Linked DNA regions of Homo sapiens. The protein of the gene in region 2 interacts with the protein of the main gene of each other region in a biochemical or structural test. Each region holds a gene or a part of one and is shown on either strand. Other genes may lie near its edges.

Region 1 (10,800 bases), on a different chromosome or scaffold from region 2:
TCCTTGGGATTTAGGATTTCACATTTCCAGTTTTGACTCTTTGGGAATGACCTCAAAGTTCCATGTTTAATGTGCAGTTTTGCTGACCCATAGAGCCTCCAGTATGGGAGGGGACTCCTTGGCTAGTTCTTGAACTGAGCTGACTGCCTGCATCCTCACATCTGTTCTGTACTCCTCGCTGGCTCCTTGCAGGCGACGTGGACTTGGGAGTTTGGATGGAGTGTCTCTGACCATTGCATAGACCAATTGTACAATGTATGTGGCAGAAATTGTACAAAATATCTAATGATTTGAAAATCCCAGTGGGAGCCTGCCCTCAATTTGTTGGCCTGGTCTTTGACCTTGGTGCCTCAAGACTCAAATAACCTCACCCCGACCCTGTTAGAGCCAACTGACTGCATTTGTTCTTTTTTTGGAGACGGGGTCTCGCTCTGTCGCCCGGGCTGGAGTGCAGTGATGTGATCATAGCTCACTGCAGCCTCAAACTCCTGGGCTCAAGCGATCTTCCTGCCTCAGCCTCCTGAGTAGCTGAGACTACAGGTGTGGGTCATCACGCCCAGCTGAACTGATTACTTTGATGCCTACCGTGATTATCCGTGAGGGTAAAGTTGTTCTCAGTATTCAAGATGAATTTGAACTTCACGTTTCGTGGTGTTATGTCCTTGTCTATTGCGGAGATCTGCAGGACCAGCTGGAGTGTGGAAGACAGGAGATGGTCAGTGATGGTGGTGGGGTGGTGGGGTGGTCTGAGGTTTAGCGATGGAGCCTTTGGGTTTAAGTCCTGACCATGGCTGTTTCCCACCTGCAACACTCACCTATTTAGTTCTTCATAAAGCCATTCTTTCTACTTCCCTGCCCCGCCAATCTACTCCCCATATATTCCCTCTGAGCCTCAGTTTCTCCATCTGTAAAATGGGCATAATGTTATTTTCCTCAAGGCTATTGTACAGGGGAACTCCTGCTGACTCTGTTGAGCAGTTCTGCCCCCCAGCCTGCCCCAGGGTGGTGCTGCCTTCCCCTCCCACCTGAACCAGACTCACCTGGCCATGGACAGCGTTCTCACACACTTTGGGCTGGTAGGGCTTGGCAAACTCCGGGGCATTGTCATTCTCATCCAAAACTTCAATGTGGACTTGCACAATGGATTCTTTTCCTGTGGGGGTTCCTGCAGGGGAGAAGACTGTCACCATTATGGGCTCAGCTGATGCTGGCCTTGGGCGGTGGAAGATGTGTGGAAGGAGGGCTGCCCTATGGAGGCCACTTTTTGCAGGAGGAGGCTGTGGAACAGAGGCCCAGGATGGTGTTCTGGATAAAAGGAGTTTGGTGGGGGGAGGTGTTAAATCTCATCCATAAGGTTTACTGAGGTATTACTTTGATTATGAGAATCAAAAAGGTAAACCACCTAAGTGCATTAAAAAAATTGTAATTAAATTCCTAAAATTAAAAATTTAATTATTTGATTAAATACATAAAACATAATAAATTAATCATAAAAGAATTGAAAAGGTAAACAACCTAAGTGAGATTGGGTCAGTAAACTAGGCTACCGGAAAAGACTGAAATGGATGGCCACTGACAATGCCTATGTCACTTACATCTTAAACATATAATTAAAAAAAATTTTAAGGCCAGGTGCTGTGGCTCACCCCTGTAATTTCATACTTTGAAAGGCCTAGAAGGGAGGATTGCTTGGGGCCCAGAGTTGGAGACAAGCCTGGGAAACATGGTGAGACCCCATCTCTACAAAAAAAATTAAGACATTTGCTGGGCAATGTGGTGCACGCCTGTAGTCCCAGCTGCTCAGGAGGCTGAGGTGGGAGGATCATTTGAACTCAGGAATTAGAGGCTGCAGTGAGCTGTGATCGTGCCACTGCACTTCATCCTGGACAACAGAGTGAGACCCTGTTTCTCTCTTAAAAAAAAAATTAGTACCATGAGAAAGTGGTTCTGGAATAAGGTTAAGTAAAGGTTAAGTAAAAATGTGGAATATAATATCTTACACAAACATTACAATCTCATGTAAGTATAAAAATATGTATAAAAATAAAAATACATGAATGTGCTAATAGTAACTGTCTCTGCATGGTGGCATTGGTGGGAGGAGTATTTTCTTCTCATTTTCTGTATTTTCCGTATTTTAAACCATTTAAATGTAAAGAGTCTATGAATGGGATTATGTGGAGGAGAAAGAAGCAAAGACTGATCTGGCCAAACATGCAGGAGTCCATTACAGTTTGGGGCAGCAGCTGTGTTGGCAGAAGTGAGTCTGGGTGGGCCCGGCAGGCGCCAGGGATCCTTGGCCTAGCGGGCTCCTGGGTAAAGTGGGAGTATTAATAGTTCTCCTGGAGGGTGATTGTGATTTTCTAATATAGATAGAGGATGCAAAACTCCAACTCTTGCCCCTCCCTCTGGCAAAAATTACACAATTTCTAGAGAAACTCACAATCTCAAAATTGGAAGCTGCTTCACATTTTGAATTCTACCTATTAACTGGTGCATAAACACCCTCTGAAGGAACATTTCCCAAACAGCCATGATAACTAAGAATCATGGGACCCTTGTTAAATGCACATCTCTGGCTCACTGGACCAGAACCTGCAGGGTGGAGTAGAGCTTTATGCTTAATAGGTGACTTGGGTGATTCTCGTCACAGAGACATCTGCACAGCCTGTTTCATGACAGTGGTTTTCAAACTGTGACATGCATGAGATTCCGATTCAGTGTGGGGGTGAGGCCCGAGATGCAACAAGGTCTCAGGGGATGTTGATACTGCTGGGTTCAAGGACCACACTTGGGCATGGGAGCTCTATAGCATCCCAACCAGCGGGTGCTTCAGCAGGCACTTCTAATACGTCTAGAGACCCCAAATTATTGATTATGCCAGTTTTGGAAGAATGAGGGAAAAGGAAAAGAATCCAGGTGCCCTGGCAGATGTGGCCACTCACCAGTGGAATCCAGTTCTTTGGCCTCCACAGTCAGGTTATACCAGGGGTAGACTTCTCTGTCCAGTTCTTTCTCATTGTAAATGTCCCCCTTTTTTGTGACTCGGAAGAACTGGCCCTTGTCACTGGTCCTGCGGATGGAGTATCTGCCCAGGGGAGAGAGTTTCATGGCTTTCCATTGTTCTTTGCTGAGTCTACACTCCTCAGCATGATGGACAAGGCCCTTCTGCATCTGTCCCCTGCATCCCACTCCATGCCCCTCTCTCACTGCTCATTGCACTCTGCCACTCAGACAAGAGTGGACCTACACAGAGGGATTCAGGATAGCAAGATAATGTCTTTGATCTTAGTTACATTGCCATCACTGGACTGGAGGTGGTACCTGAGACCATCAGATGCACTTTCAGAGCTGAACAGGTGACATCACACCATAGCTGGGACTTGTTTTAGTGATTAATGAAAAGATCATTGGGCAAGAGCCAGGAAGGAATACAAAAAGAGCTGGAAGAGATAAGAAGTAATTACAAAGAAATTAACTTTGTGAAATAAAAAACTTAAAAAGTTCTTTCAGAAATCAGGAAAAATCTATGGAAAGATAAATATATATGTTTTGTGTATATAGGAATAATAGTTGCTATTAATGAGGAAAATCCCAGAACAAACAGAACAGAAGAAATAACAAAAAAAAAAAAAAAAAAAAAGAAAAGAAAAGTTTCCTGATCTGAAGAAAGGCTTGAGTCTACACATTATAAGATGTCATTGACATCAGGCATCATTGAAAAAAACCCCAATACTTAGGCAAATCCTGACGACACTTACGAATTTCAAGGCTGTGTGAAGAAACTGAAAAGAGTCCAGACAGAAAGAAATAATTTCCTTATGAGGAAAGAAAAATCAGATTTGCCTCAGATGCCCCCACAAAATTAAATACTAGAATACATTGATAGTATTTTTGAAGGGAAGTGTTTATAATCTGAGGATTATACGAATACATCTAGGTGTTATTAGAAGGCAAGGTTGGGCATGGTGGCTCACATCTGTAATTTGAGTGCTTTGGGAGAGGCTGAAGCTGGAGGTTTGCTTGAGGCCAGGAGTTCAAGACCAGCCCAGCCCAGGTGACAGAGTGAGACCCTGTCTCACCAAAAAAAAAAAAAAAAAAAAAAAAAAAAAAAAAAAAAAAAAAAAAGATTAGCCTGGTGTGGTGGTGTGTGCCTGTAGTCCCAGATACTCAGAGGCTGAGGTGGGAGGGTTGCTTCAGCCTAGATGTTCAAGGCTGTAGTGAGCTATGGTTGTGCCACTGCACTCTAGCCTGGGTGACAGAGGAAGAACCTGTCCCCCCCACCCCCCAAAAAAGGCAAAGAACTAAGATATTTGTGTCCTGAATTTTTTTTTGAAAACTTACTGTATCTAACTAAACATCTCAATATAAAGTAAAAACCTGGCATGGGAAGAATTAAAACAAAACTATTGATTTTTTTTATCATACATAGAAAAGCAATGGGTGTGTGTATGTCTATAATAGTTTTAACTAGAAAATATAGGTCCAAGAAAACATTTTAAATTTTGCAGATAGAAGTAAATCTCACTGGTAGAAATAAAAATGGATGCACCTCATCCAAATATCTAGGAGAAAAAAAAAATAAAGAAACATAGACTGTATAGCAAAGATGAGGAAAAAGAAAAAAGCCATTAAATTTGATAAATGAGAAATGTAAAACAAGATAAAAGAAGGAACATCAAACATATCAATTATGATGAAAAATGTAAATAGGTTAAACACAAAGCATTTCAGTTTAGATTAAAAAGCAAAGCCAAATGCATTCTTGTTTTCAAGAGACAACTTAATGCCAAATGACCTGGAAAAATTAAAAGTAAAGGTTGTAAAATTTGCATTAGGCGTATATGAATAACATGAAAACAGGACTAACAAATGTAACATCAGGAAACAGAATTAAAGGCAAAATATTTAAGCAGAACAAATTGGCTAATTACATTTGGATGAAAGTTACAAACCATAATGAAGGTAAAATAGTTGCAAACCTTTGTTAACTGAATAGAAAAATTTAAATACATAAAGTCAAAACTTAGATATTCTAGGAAGAAGTGGACACAAATACAATTGTATCACATCACAGAACAAGCTAAAGCAAAACAAAAAAAACACCCTATGACTTATAAATGAAAATAAAGAAATCAAGTCAATCTCTTAAATAAACCCTTGGATCAAAGGAGAAACAAAAATTATAATTACAGGCTATTTAGAAAAGAATGGCAATGAAGAGTAGTCCCAAAACTTAGGATATGAGGCCAAAATGGAAGAACATATTTTGTCCTTAATAAGAAGACTTAATACCCTTGAAACATTAGCTATACCAAAATTAATATATAAACACTAGAATTCTAATGTTTAAAAAACCTGGATACAAAATTTTAAATTTCACAAAAGAAAAAATGAGAGTTGACAAAAAATTATATCAAATAAAAAAGCAACATGGGAAGGACTTTTATGTATATCTAAGATCTAGTGTAAAGCTATATGGTTTGGATCTGTGTCCCCACCGAATCTCATGTTGAAATGTAATCCCCAGTGTTGGAGGTGGGCCCTGGTGGGAGGTGGATAGACCATGGGACAGAGTTCTCATGAATGGGTTAGCTCCATCCCCTAGGTTCTGTTCTCAAGCTAGTGAGTTATCATGAGACCAGGTTGTTGAAAAGTGTGTAACAACTCCCTTCCCACTCCTGTTCTGGCCGTGTAAGACGTGCCTGCTTCCCCAGGACTGTAAGTTTTCTGAGGCCTCCCCAGAAGGAGAAGCCACTATACTTCCTGTTAAACCTCTTTTCTTTATAAATTACCCAGTCTTAACTATTTCTTTATAGGAGAATGGACTTATACAAGCTAGTAGAATAAAACAGAATAGCTTTGCTATAGAATGATGGATAGGACAGAGAATTAGAAGTAGATACAGGTATATACAGAAAACTTAGTATATAATGAAGGTGGGAAAACGATGACTTATTATTATAATATTTAGTAAATGGTGCTGGCAAAATCAGCTATGCATCTACAATAAAATAAGATTGAATTGAATTTATACTTACTATTGCATATTATATGGCTCTAAAAAGTATCTGTTGGAACTATATCATTTTTTTCTAAAGATTGTAAAAGAGAAATTTAGTTAAGATAGAAGAGCAAATATCGATGAAACCAGCATGGCATGATCCAAAAAAATTTTAAAACAATCAAACATCAAAAGCAAACAGACAACAACAAACCCACCATAAATGCATCCACATGTTTGTGTGGTCACGAAAAGAAAGGAGCAATAGGACCAGGTTAGGCCACGAACATGAGTTATCTGAGAGTGGGGGTTATCAGTGTTTTCTTGGTAGATCTCTGTGTTGTTTCACTGTATAAAATGAACACTTCTTACTTTTGTGGTTTGGGGAAGATAGATTCAAGAATACAGTTTTAGTGAAGGGGCCTCTGGTGTGTCGTCTGATTGGTTGCTTTCTTGACTGTCAGATCTTACCACATAGGACTGGTGAGAGCTGTGGTGCAGAGAATAAGCCTTCAAGGCCGGACAGAGGACAAGTAGCTCTGGATGCCCAGGACCATGCTAGGTGGGGGAGTCCAGGCAGGTCAAGATGCCAGGCTGCCAAGTGCAAGAGCTTGGGCTTCTGGTCTTGCCTCTGTCACTTTCCCTGTAAGTGCTAGGAGAAGCCAGTTCCCCTCTCTGAGTCCTGGCCTCAGACCAGCAGGCATAGGAACATCCAGGCCGGATTGTCCTTATCATTCTCATCGACACACGCCCCCTTACCCAATGCTATGCCTAGCCGCATCAGGGTCCATGGCCAGCACTGTGCCAATCAGAGGCTTCTTCTGGTTTTCCTTCAGCTGGAAGTGGTAGAAAGGCTGCTGGAAAATGGGGGGCTCGTCCACATCTGTGATGTTGATAATGACCTGGGCTCTGTTTCCCGCGGGAGGGCTCATGTATCGGAGGTCGATGGTGGGGTCTGTGGCCTCGACGATGAAGCTGTATTGCTGGATGTATTCATAATCCAGAGGCTGCGTAAGGAAAAAGGATGGTGAGTGCCTGCTCTGGGCCAAGCATGTGTGTGGCACATGATCTGCACAGCAACTATGCAAGGTAGTACCAGGATGACACCCATTTTATAGATGAGGGGCCCATGGCCTCGACAAGTGATATTTCTGAGGTCATCAAGACAGCGGCTGGGCCTGGTGTCTGTCTTCAGCTGCTCCCCATTTCATCTCAGCAGCCTCATGGCCACACCCACAACCCTGGCTGTGTGCCTGGCCCTATTTCCAGCGTTTGGGACATAGAATGGATCAACTATGGTCCTGCTCTTAAGAGCGTCACTAGTGGTTCTACCCACAGGTCCTTAAGGACAGGCTTTTTCTTTGTTCTTGAGACAGAATATTGCTCTTGGTACCCAGATTGGAGTGCAATGGCACGACCTCCGCTCACTACAACTTCCACCTCCCAGGTTCAAGCGATTCTCCTGCCTCAGCCTTCCAAGTAGCTGGGATTACAGGCACCTGCCACCACGCCCAGCTAATTTTGGTATTTTTAGTAGAGACGGGGTTTCACCATATTGGCCAGGCTGGTCTCAAACTCCTGACCTCAGGTGATCCACCTGCCTCGGCCTCACAAAGTGCTGGGATTAGAGGCGTGAACCACCGGGCCCGGCCGGACATGCTTTTTCTTTATGCCTTTGCTCAAGATCCTTCTCCTGCCCTTGCCTGCCTAGAAAACTCCTACTCATCCCTCAGGAAGCCAAGCAGAAGGTAATCAGATGCTCTCTCAGAAACCCCTCCTAGCAGAGGTAATTGCTCCCTGTTCAGAGCTGCTGTGTATCACTTACACCTGGCTGTACTTTTTTTGTTCATGCATATGTCTTCCCCATTCGCTGAGACCTTTGCTGACACTGGAGGCTGTGTCTGCCTCTCCTTGGTGTTTCCAAGCCCCAGCATGGGGCTGGTTCAGAGAAGGACTCAGGCCCAGGACTTGCAATCCTCTGCATGGCCATTCCAGAGGCATTTTTTATGCCCCTCACAGGACCTCTCCCTCCTCTTCCAGATTCAGTTAATCTGGCTTCTCTGGCTGTCAGCAGCATCCAGTGTCAGTGGCCATCCATGTCACCACAATTACTCACTGTTTTCTTCATGCTGATGGATTTCTACTGGCCAGGACACATGGCAGGCCAGAAAGTGCCAGAGAGGTAATAACTCCAGGGGCAGCCCCCAGTCAACACCACGGACAGCGGGTGTATAAATACCCCAGCTCCTTCACCCTCAGCTTCTCCAACTCTGGGATGTGTTCCACACTTACCCCGCAGTGGGTCATTGCTCCTGGGGCTTCCTGGGATCACCTCCCAGATAAACAATTTACACCCAGTCATGGCCTTAAGATTTGCTTCCCAAGTAACTCGGCCTAAGACACTGGATCACAGTCTCCATGAACACATGACCACCTTGGAGCTTTGATGGTCCTTTGATGGTCTCTGGCCCAGGAGCAATCCCCAAGCAGGACCTGTGGGTGCCAAGAGCCCCAAGCCTCACGTTTGACATTGTTGCCATTGGCCTACAAACCTTCATGGGCTTGATGATGCCCTCGTTGTGGGCGGGGTTTGTCTCAATGGTGAAAGCGTCCTGGTAGTCGCCCCGCAAGATGCTGTACTTGGTCATCCGGTTCTGGGGCTCATCTGGGTCCTCAACAAACAGAGAGCCCACAGAGGTGCCCACACGGGTGTCTTCAGGCACGACAAATGTGTACTTGGCTGATGCAAACAGAGCACCCCAAAGGGCTTTGGGTTAATGAGATAGACAAGGCGATTGCCTCTTTCAGCTATTCTAACATATTTTGATAAAAGAAATGGGCATAATAAAATAATCATAAATAATAATACCCCTGGGATTCTCAAGGTAAAGAGGGTCTTCCCTATCTGTATGTCCATCCATCCATCCCTCCATCCAATAAATAGCTATTGAGCACCTATTGTATGCCAGGCACTTTGCTAGGGGACCTATCAATGGACAAGAGAGACAAGTCCTGCCTTCAGGGAGCTTATGCCATGTACGAGGAAGCCACTTCAGGACAATTGGCCTGTCTCTAGGGTGGCTGAACAACTGAATGACAGTATCAGCACTGGGAGTTGCAAGTGGAGAGCCATCTGCCCCAGGCATGGGAAAAGCTCTCATTAGACATTCTCTGTGGGGTGGATCAGTGTGTAGGTGGGGTCAGGGCCCAGCCCTGGCTCTGGATATAGAACTTTGCTGTCCCCATGTTCACTGGCTTGTGGGAATTTCTAGCTGGGACCTGAGTCTCAGGGCTTTGATTTTCCCAAGCCCATGGGATCTGGGTGAAACTGCTTGTGTCTCATGGTGGGACACAGTACAGTGGTGGCACCCAGCAGGGAGTGGGATTTCCCTCTGGCCTATGAGGGGATTGTGGCAGGGGGCGGCAGGATGGCCTTGGGAATGTGGTATTGGGATGGAAGCAGGGCCCCTCCCTTCACCCAAAGGACTCCTTTGGGCATCAGGCCTACCCTGGGATAGAGGGAGAGGTAAAGTGATTTGTAACTCTTTTCCCAGAGCCCCAAGTCACTGAGTCTGGGGTATCCCAGCCCCCCTTCCCAGGGCCCTAGAGGAGGGGCTCACTCTGGGTGAAGAAGGGGAAGTTGTCATTGATGTCTTGCAGAGTGACCAGCACGGTGGCCGTGCCCGAGTCCCCCCGGAGGCCCTGGGCATCTCGCGCTTCCACCACGATCTCATACCTGGCCTGCTTCTCTCGGTCCAAGCTTTTCGTTATTGTGATAATACGTCCTGCAAAAAGATTCCCAGCAGGAACCATGTTACCAGCTTCTAGAAAATACCGATGCCTAGGGCCTGCCCAGAGAGAACCTGACTTAAGAGCTTCCCTGGTGATTCCACTGTGCAAATGGGGCTGAGAACTGTGAGTCTACAACCCACTACCTCCATAGCCTATACTGTGAGGCCAAAGCTGGCCCAATAGTTGGGTTCGGTATTGGTCCTCGCCACCTGAAATATTGTGTTGACAAAGACCATGAGGCCATATCTAGGCTCAGATGGAAAGAGTGCTGTGATAGATTAGTGATGTCTGCCTTGGTGCACTGTAGCATAGTAGTGGCATCTGTGCTATGTATTTGCCATCTCTCTGAAAGACAGTTCCACTGGACTTCTTTCTTGCTCCCAAGAGTCAGTCCTTATATTTTTTGTTAAGTCATCACATAAGCAATTACTATGGGCCTTGCTGCCTTTATACATGATCTAACTCAAACTTTACAGCTACCATACGATATAAATATAAGCATTCCTACCTCCTAGATGAGGGAACTAAGGCTTGCAGAAGTTAGTTGATTTGTCCAAGGTCTCTAGAGGGGGTGAGTGGCAGAGCTGGCTTTGGAAACCAGATCTGTCTGAACCTGCACCCAGAGCGGCTAGCCACCATCCTCTGCTGCCCCTTGGCCACTTCTTGGGTAACAAGATCCTGATTTTGTTCCCTGGACTTGAGTCCACCTCTTGGGCACCTGCCTGCTTCCTTCTCCCTTGACCAGCCGCCTTGTCTTTACATATGATACTGACTACTTCCATGGTACAGTGTGGTTCAGTAGCTAGTGACACCTGTCAGACTGGACTTCCCTTAGCACATGCACCTGGAGTATCCACCTCCCCTTGTCCCTCCAAATCAGTGACTGTCCAGGAGTGTTAGTCACACAGACCAGAATTATCGATGGCAAAATACTCTTTCCCCTTCAGGATTTGGTACATGACAGAGGCGTGGTCTCCCACAGTGGGGTCGTCTGCATCCACTGC
Region 2 (8,092 bases):
ATGATTGCCTTCTACTTCTTCCTCAAAGTCCAACTACCATGAAGCTCTTGAGTGTTAAGATGACTAGGATCATTTCTAAGATCTAAAACAATTACTTTGTAGAAATTACTATTAGTAAACAGCCAGTGAAGTCACTGATGAACATAAACTGACATTAGGAATTTACACAGCACCATTCCAGCTCAAAGCTTAACAGTCAAAGTGAATAAGCCACAAACAGAAAGGAGATCACCCAGGGTGACACTTCTCACACTGTAATGTGCATGCAAATCACCTAGGGATGTTATGTTAATGCAGATTCTGAGTCAGCACATCTATCTGGGTAAAGGCTGAGACTCTGAACTTCTAAAAAGCTCTCAGACACCATGTCAATATATGTGATGTGCAGACTACCAGTACTATGTGTAGGAAGGACTTCAAAGTATTCCTTAGCAACTTTGAGTCCATCGCAGTAATTTCTGATATCCTAAGACAAGTAGAGAAATAATTTTCCCTGAAGCAGCATTTGTTGAAGGAGGAAAAAAAAAAAAAAAAGACTGCTTGATAGTTAATAGAAACAGTTAGAGGCCAAGCGCAGTGGCTCACACCTGTAATCCCAGCACTTTGGGAGGCCGAAGCGGGCGGATCACTTGAGGTCAGGAGTTCGAGACCAGCCTGGCCAACATGGTAAAACCCAGTCTCTACTAAAAGTACAAAAATTAGCCAGGCGTGGTGGCAGGCACCTGTAATCCCAGGTACTCAGGAAGCTGAGGCAGGAGAATCACTTGAACCCAGGAGGCAGAGGTTGCAGTGAGCTGAGATTGAGCCACTGTACTCCAGCCTGGGTGACAGAGGGAGACTGTTTCAAAAAAAAAGAAAGAAAAGAAAGAAACGGTTAGGGATATACAGAAAGGCGTTGAAGCAAATAAATAAAAGAGGGAGTAAAGAACAGAAAGAAACCAGAGAAAAGCATATATTCAACAGAAAAGATGTGGTGTGAGAGTGTAGTGGGGCAGAAAATATCAGCAAATAGATAAAAATCCCCAAATATGTAGACTCTGACTCAGCCCTGAAATACTCACATTTGATTCAATCTTAATCACCGCAAGATCCAATTTAAGGTCAATATCCTTGACAACAGCTTCATAACGGGCCCCATTCTGGAGCACCACCTCAATCCACTGCTGGTTCCTGACAACATGGGCATTGGTAATAATGAGCCCGTCCTCAGACACTATGAACCCAGAGCCACTGTACACAGGAACAAGCCTGCTGCCGTGAAGTAACCTGTCTCCACAAGACAATAGTGTAAACAGAGGGCAAGAAAGTTAGGGGATACAGCCATATAATCTGAGTCATGGGAACCTCACTCTTATTAAACATACCTCCATCATAGTTTTCTTTTCTTTTCTTTTTTCTTTTTTGAGACAGAATCTCGCTCTGTTGCCCAAGCTGGAGTGCAGTGGCGCAATCTCGGCTCACTGCAACCACCTCCCAGGCTCCTGCCTCAGCCTCCCAAGTAGCTGGGATAACAGGCATGCACCACCACGCCTGGCTAATTTTTGTATTTTTAGTGGAGATGGGGTTTCACCATGTTGGCCAGGCTGCTCTCGAACGCCTGACCTCAGGTGATCCACCCGCCTCGGCCTCCCAAAGTGCTGGGATTACAGGCATGAGCCACCGTACCCAGCCTTCCTTCAGTTTTCTCAGACATTTCACTTTTCCCTGGCTATGCGTAAATTTTCTCCATGTATCAGTGGACTTGGCAGGTACAGGGCCCCAGCCATCTCTTGTGAGCATGGTTGAGAGTGGGGTCCAGCTCTCCTTTTCCAGGGACACTGCTTCTTCAGAGCTGGTTAGTGTAGCAGCCCATGGGTTCTCTGCTGCGAAAAGACTGAACCCAATCCTAATACTAGAGGCAAAAGTCAGCCTCTTACCACAGTATCAAGGACCCAGGCAGGAGAGAATCAAAGGGCTCTGATTCTGGCTTAGTTTCCACCGCCAACTGGCCTCGTAACATAGTAACATAGGACAAATTAACCCTGCTCTCTGGGTCTGGATTTCCTTGTATCCAAAGTGGGGGCTGAGCAAGATCACAACCAAAATGCCTACTAAGCTGGATGTGGTGGCTACACCCGTAATCCCAGCACGTCGGGAGGCTAAGGTGGCAGATCGTTTGGGCCCAGGAGTTCGAGACCAGCCTGAGCAATATAACAAGACCTCGTCTCTACAAAAAAATACAAATATTAGCTGGGTATGGTGGCACCTGCCTATAGTCCCAGTTACTCCAGAGGCTGGGTTGGGAGGATTACTTGAGCCCAGCAGATGGAGCTGCAGTGAGCCGTGATCTGTCACTGCATTTCAGCCCTGGCGACAGAGCAAGACCTTGTCTCAAAAAAAGAAAAGAAATTGCCTACTAGCTCTTATATCTGACCTTAAATTTTGTCTGTGGCAGGAGGGGGAAAAAGCACCAGCCACCTAAGTGGGCAGGGGGAGCTGGGATTTAGAAGTCAGCATCCTTGTGCCTCTGCTCTTTGGTTAAATGACCTTGAACAGGTTATTCAACCTCTTTACGTCTCAGTTTCCTCACTGGTTTTTTAGGATTAAATGACGCTTGCGAAGGGTCTGGAGCAGGTAGGCACGCAGAAACCATTAGCTGGGACAGTGGAGGTCTTCCTCCTCCTCCTTTACCTGCCCCACAGCTGCACGTGAACCACCGATGGCGCCACCTTCTCCACCACCGCGGCGATGAAGTTGTAATTCCTCCTGAGCGGGCCTGCGCTTCTGGTCCCTATGAAAAAATACTGGCTCAAGAGTACGCCTCGAGGGAACCAGACCTGCTATCCTAGTTGGAAAAATGTTAAAGGCAAGACAGTGTTCAAAAGGTGCATGGGGAGGGAGAAACCACGTAGCAGCCGGTAAAGAGCCCCTGTTAAGGAGGAAAGGAAATCAGGAACACAGAGGTGTCGAATCCAGGAGGCAAATGACGCAGGAGGACCAGGCGCGAACTGTGCGGTCTCAGTGAGGTCTTGTTCCTTTACGCTCCTCCAGAGTTAGAAAGTGTTCCGAGGGCGCGCGCCCCCGCGGCTCACCTGTATCCCCGCAGTTCCCCCACTGCACAGGCACGGCCGGGACCTTGCCCAGGCGGCGCGCGGCGCGGTTTTCGGCCCGGAGCGCGCACATGCTGGGGTAGGTGCGCCTGTCGCTGCCGCACACGGCCCCTCCCAGCGTCGGGCAACCGCAGGTGCTGGGGAACCCGGGGCGCAGCGGCTGGAGGCACTGCAGCCCCGGGGCGCACGGTTGGCCCTGCGCCCCGCCGCAGACTTCACGCTCGGCCGCGGGGCAGACGCGGCAACAGCGGCACAGGTCGAACACCGGCGTGGTCCCCAGCGCGCAGGTGGGCAGCGCGGGGCAGCGCGTGGGCTGGCAGACCGCGGGGCAGGAGGGCTGGGTATGTAGCTTTTCAGCCCCGGCCCAGAGGACGGGCACCAGGAGCAGCAGCAGCCCCGGCAGGAGGCATCGTCCCAGCCCCGCGGTCCGCAGCTGAGGTCTAATCATCCTGTTCCTTCCTCGCTTCCACTCTTCAGTGACTTTACTCTGGACCTGCAAACCCTCCTAAATGAGAGACACTTTCTCCCGGCCACGGCGCCGCCTCCGCCGGCCCCCAAACTTTAAGGGGCAGAGCCTGGCATACCTCTGCATATACACACCCGTACATCCCCTACCACCCGCCCCCGTCGGCGCCCCGGAGCCAGGTTCTCCCCCAGGCAATGAGGGGAAGGTCTCTAGCCCTACCCGGAGCAGGAACCTACCTCCTGAAATCCCTAAAACCGACAATGAGGGCAGACTGATAAGAAAGCTCACCCACCCATGGTCAGAAGGTCAGTATTAGGAAAACACATGACCATATTTCAGTATTTCACATGGTTTTATTACAAAACAAGCCACAAAACAGTTTTAGAAAATTTTTGCTACATACCAATTAGGAGATCACATAAAATGAGAAGCGTAACAGTTTCCATGCACTCAGCCTAGAGCTTACAGCGAGTGCATTTCACAGCTGAAACATCACTGCTTTAAAACACAGAATCATGCTACCCCTTCATAAGCAGAGGGGGAGGAGGTCAAACAGTATGTTTTTGCCAAACGTTTGCTTTATCTGAACTCTATCTAGTATGAAGGACTGGCTGCCGCAGGCAATAACACAGAGAGGAAAAGGAACAAAGGAAGAAAAGGGTGCTGGCAGACAAGATTTAACAAACCTGTCCACTTCCGACATTTTGAAAGTTTATAAACAAAGCTCACTTGGGGACACTCAATTTCCAAAATGCTGTGACCTCCACATGTTATCTAATTTATACTGAAAACAAACCTACTAAACTCCACTCCTCAACTACTGAACCTGCTATTTATTCATGGGGTCTTTTTAGCCCATATAAGAGTATATTTATATTCAGAAATATAAAAGAAAAAAAATTTGCTTCAAGTAGACTAAGAAGCTGGACCTTAAAACTACTTTCTTTCTCGTGGGAGCTGAGTATTCAACTCAGAAATAGATGTATAACTCCAATATTCTGACCTGACATCAATCTCCATAATGTATACCTCAATACCCTTATGATGTCTCACTTAACACTAAAGGCCAAATTATTTTTACCAACCATCAGCTGACATTGAGTAAGCAAGTCTTTTGAAGATTTCAAAAGTAATAGATGGTGGCCAGGCGTGGTGGCTCACACCTATAATCTGAGTACTTTGGGAGGCTGTGAGGCAGGAAGATCACTTGAGCCCAGGAGGTCCAGGCTGCAGTGAGCCATGATCAGGCCACTGCACTCCAGCCTGGGTGACAGAGTGAAACACTGTTTCTAAAAATAAAAATTAAAGAATAATGGATGGCATTATTCAGCCATGGGGAGGACCACCTGAAATACTGTTACACACAGTGGGTCAAGACCACTTCAAAAGCCTTATGAAAATAGCACAACTCAGGCAAGGCTTTTATTCCACAAAGAAAATGCAGTACATTTTTTAGTTCCTTTAAAAAAAAAAAAACTCAGATTTACTCCAGAGCCTATGCACTTAGTCACTAATCTATACTGCATCCCCAACCTATTTTTTCCATTTGGTTCAATTTTATACATTTAAAACTAACTGCTTTGGTCAAATACGTACCATCTTTGGTTCACATTAAAAGATTATGGTCCAAAACTGGCCAGAAGTTAAGAAATATCAACAAAATAGGAAGTTTGAAATACAATTTAGGAATGGAATGCTTTTAGAGCTTGTTTCATTGAAGATAATAATTTATCTCATATTGAACTACATTAACGATGTTCTGGCTAGGTGCAGTGGCTCACACCTGTAATCCCAACACTTTAGGAGGCCAAGGCAGGAGGATCACTTGGGCCAGGAGTTTGAGAGAGCCTGGGCAACATAGCCAGGCTCTGTAGATAAAAAAAAATTAAAAATTAGCCAGGCGTGGTAGCACAACCCTGTAGTCCTAGCTACTTGGGAAGCTAACATGGGAGGATTGCTTAAGCCCAGAGATTCAAAGTTATGATGAACTATGATCACACCACTGCACTCTAGCCTGGGTAAGAGAGTGAGACCCTGTCTTTTAAAAATTAAAAAAAAAAAATTAAAAACAAGCAATGCTCTAATGTGGAATTCCCAAGTGTTTGCCAATTGACAAGAAGATTTCCATTTGACAGTCTTAGTGTCCTCGTTTCCCTTTATCAGGATAATACCATATGGATTCTATGTATGTTTAATTTGTCACATTCTCAAAAGAGATCTTGCTGAATAAGAAACAAATCAGCTTATTATAATGGCCAATTAATTTAGCAATAGTAACCTATCAGATAATTTTTTTTTTGAGATGGAGTCTTGCTCTGTCGCCCAGGCTGGAGTGCAGTGGCGCGATCTTGGCTCACTGCAAGCTCCGCCTCCCAGGTTCACACCATTCTCCTGCCGCAGCCTCCCAAGTAGCTGGGACTACAGGCGCCTGCCACTGCGCCCGGCTAATTTTTTTTTCGTATTTTTAGTAGAGACGGGGTTTCACCGCGGTCTCGATCTCCTGACCTCGTGATCCGCTCGCCTCGGCCTCCCAAAGTGCTGGGATTACAGGCGTGAGCCACCTTGCCGGCCTTATCAGATAATTTATTTAAAAGAAAAGAGAGAGAGAGAGATAAATGGGTAGATTTTCACAATGTATACACCAAAAGAGGACATCTTTTCCGTGAGTCAGGGAATATTTAAAGAGATATCAAAAGTCCCTATTTTCATGAGTTCCACATCACATATTTTGTGCTTTCTTTGAATAGCCAAAAAATTTTCTTGGGGAAAATACGAGAGTAAAACCAGAGCTAAGGAGCTATAAGAATTTGGAATGGCTTCTTGAAATCATGCCGCTCCAAGTATGTCATAACCTCGATCACTCAAAAATACATAACTCCCAAACCAAGAATTTCTGAGGGCAAAAGCACACCAGCGTGTATAGGAAAGGCAGGGGAAGGGATGGAAGGGAGAGAAAGAGGGAACAATGTAGATTTCCTGTTTTATACCAGGAAAACTAGGCCAAACTCAATTTAAATGAATAGCTCCAAAGCAGTGCAGTCAGAAAAAGTTCTCAGTGTGACATAGACTTCAGGGAAACAACACGTCCTGAAAGAAACATGATTCCCCTCAAGCCACAAAGGATTTTCTCATCAAGTGTTTTCACCTCTGCATTAGATTTGGACACAAGAAGAGGAGAGCATTTACTCAGGTAAAAATAGTTCTCTTAGTCTCTTCCTCTAGTTACTAATTTTTAATTTAAAAATACAATTAACTGATCTAGCTGATAAAAGTCACAGACAGAAATAAGCTAAGTTCTCTCTTCCTTTAGGGAACGCTGGTGGCAATTCACCATATAAACTGGATGGAAGAATTCTCCCAGGGACACTGGAAATAGCATCTTCTTATCAAATGGAAGGAGGTACGCCCTAAAATTTGGGTGGGACACTCAATTTTCTTTTATATTTTGAGACGGAGTTTCACTCTTGTTGCCCTGACTGGAGTGCAATGGCGCGATCTTGGCTCACTGCAACCTCCACCTCCTGGGTTCAAGTGAATCTCCTGCCTCAGCCTCTGAGTAGCTGGGATTACAGGCCTGCACCACCACGCCCGGCTAATTTTGCATATTTTTTAGTAGAGGCGGGGTTTCACCATGTTGGCCAGGCTGATCTCGAACTCCTGACCTCAGGTGATCCACCCGCCTCAGCCTCCCAAACTACTGGCATTACAGGCGTGAGCCACCATGCCCGCTCAAAACTCAATTTTCTAGGCTCTTTTATCTGAGGAATCTCTGGCCAGCAACTCATAACATCTAAATCAATGTTTCTATGCCAAGCTTCTATTTCATTAAAAATATATATCTCTCTCTAGATTCTTTTTGTATCTCTTCATGTTAAGTGCATGGAAATTCATCCTATTACAGGGTCTGATCATGCAAGCACACAAGGCTTCATTCAAAGGGCAACAGCAAGAAGAAAGAGAAAGCAAGTTTGCAAGGGTACAAAACACATAGCGCTTAAAATTAGACTAATGCTGGCCCATTCCAAAAGAGCTGCGAGGCACCTGGACTGAAAACAAAATGAAAAAACTAAAACAAGGACAAGGAAATAAAACTTGGTCATTGGTGAAACTGGACTTCCAGCCCCCTCTGGAGAGGAGCTGCTAAAACAATCCCTCTCCAGGAAGACCTCAGAATAGTTAGAATAGAATAGGTAGCTTCCTCTCCACTGAGTATGCCTACAGTTCTAACCTAGTGACTTCCCCAAATTAAATACACTGCGTTGATATTACACACACACACACACACACACACACACACACACACAGCCCAGCTGGATGGGCCCCTCCCTCCCAAAGAGCATCCACAGGAATATGAGTGACATAAAGGCCTCTGACTACCCTCCAACAAGGTAGAGAAACTGAGTCACAGCCTCCTTCTCTCAAGTCCTCCCTCCCTCCCTCCCTCCCATGGCACTGTGCTCCATCACACATCAGAGGTCCGTATGTTTTCATCATCAAGGTTGAACATAAACGGCTTCTCCTTGGGGTGCTGGGGCTC

Evidence for each region.
Region 1: of the proteins of HTRA4 (region 2) and CDH5, one has a biochemical effect on the other in vitro, tested with the Homo sapiens proteins (one study listed by IntAct).

The regions. Positions count from the first base shown.
Region 1 is NC_000016.10:66,388,347-66,399,146, reverse strand, and holds part of CDH5 (cadherin-5 preproprotein), read right to left. Parts: coding exon 10,707-10,800; intron 9,790-10,706; coding exon 9,625-9,789; intron 8,772-9,624; coding exon of another isoform or gene 8,745-8,771; coding exon 8,557-8,744; intron 7,012-8,556; coding exon 6,764-7,011; intron 3,089-6,763; coding exon 2,946-3,088; intron 1,166-2,945; coding exon 1,041-1,165; intron 692-1,040; coding exon 586-691; intron 1-585. UniProt on the Homo sapiens protein: Cadherins are calcium-dependent cell adhesion proteins. They preferentially interact with themselves in a homophilic manner in connecting cells; cadherins may thus contribute to the sorting of heterogeneous cell types.
Region 2 is NC_000008.11:38,969,709-38,977,800, reverse strand, and holds the start of HTRA4 (serine protease HTRA4 precursor), read right to left. Parts: upstream 3,574-8,092; 5' UTR 3,538-3,573; coding exon 3,072-3,537; intron 2,771-3,071; coding exon 2,671-2,770; intron 1,267-2,670; coding exon 1,062-1,266; intron 1-1,061. Other genes in the region: PLEKHA2 (pleckstrin homology domain-containing family A member 2), read right to left, coding at 8,018-8,092. UniProt on the Homo sapiens protein: Serine protease.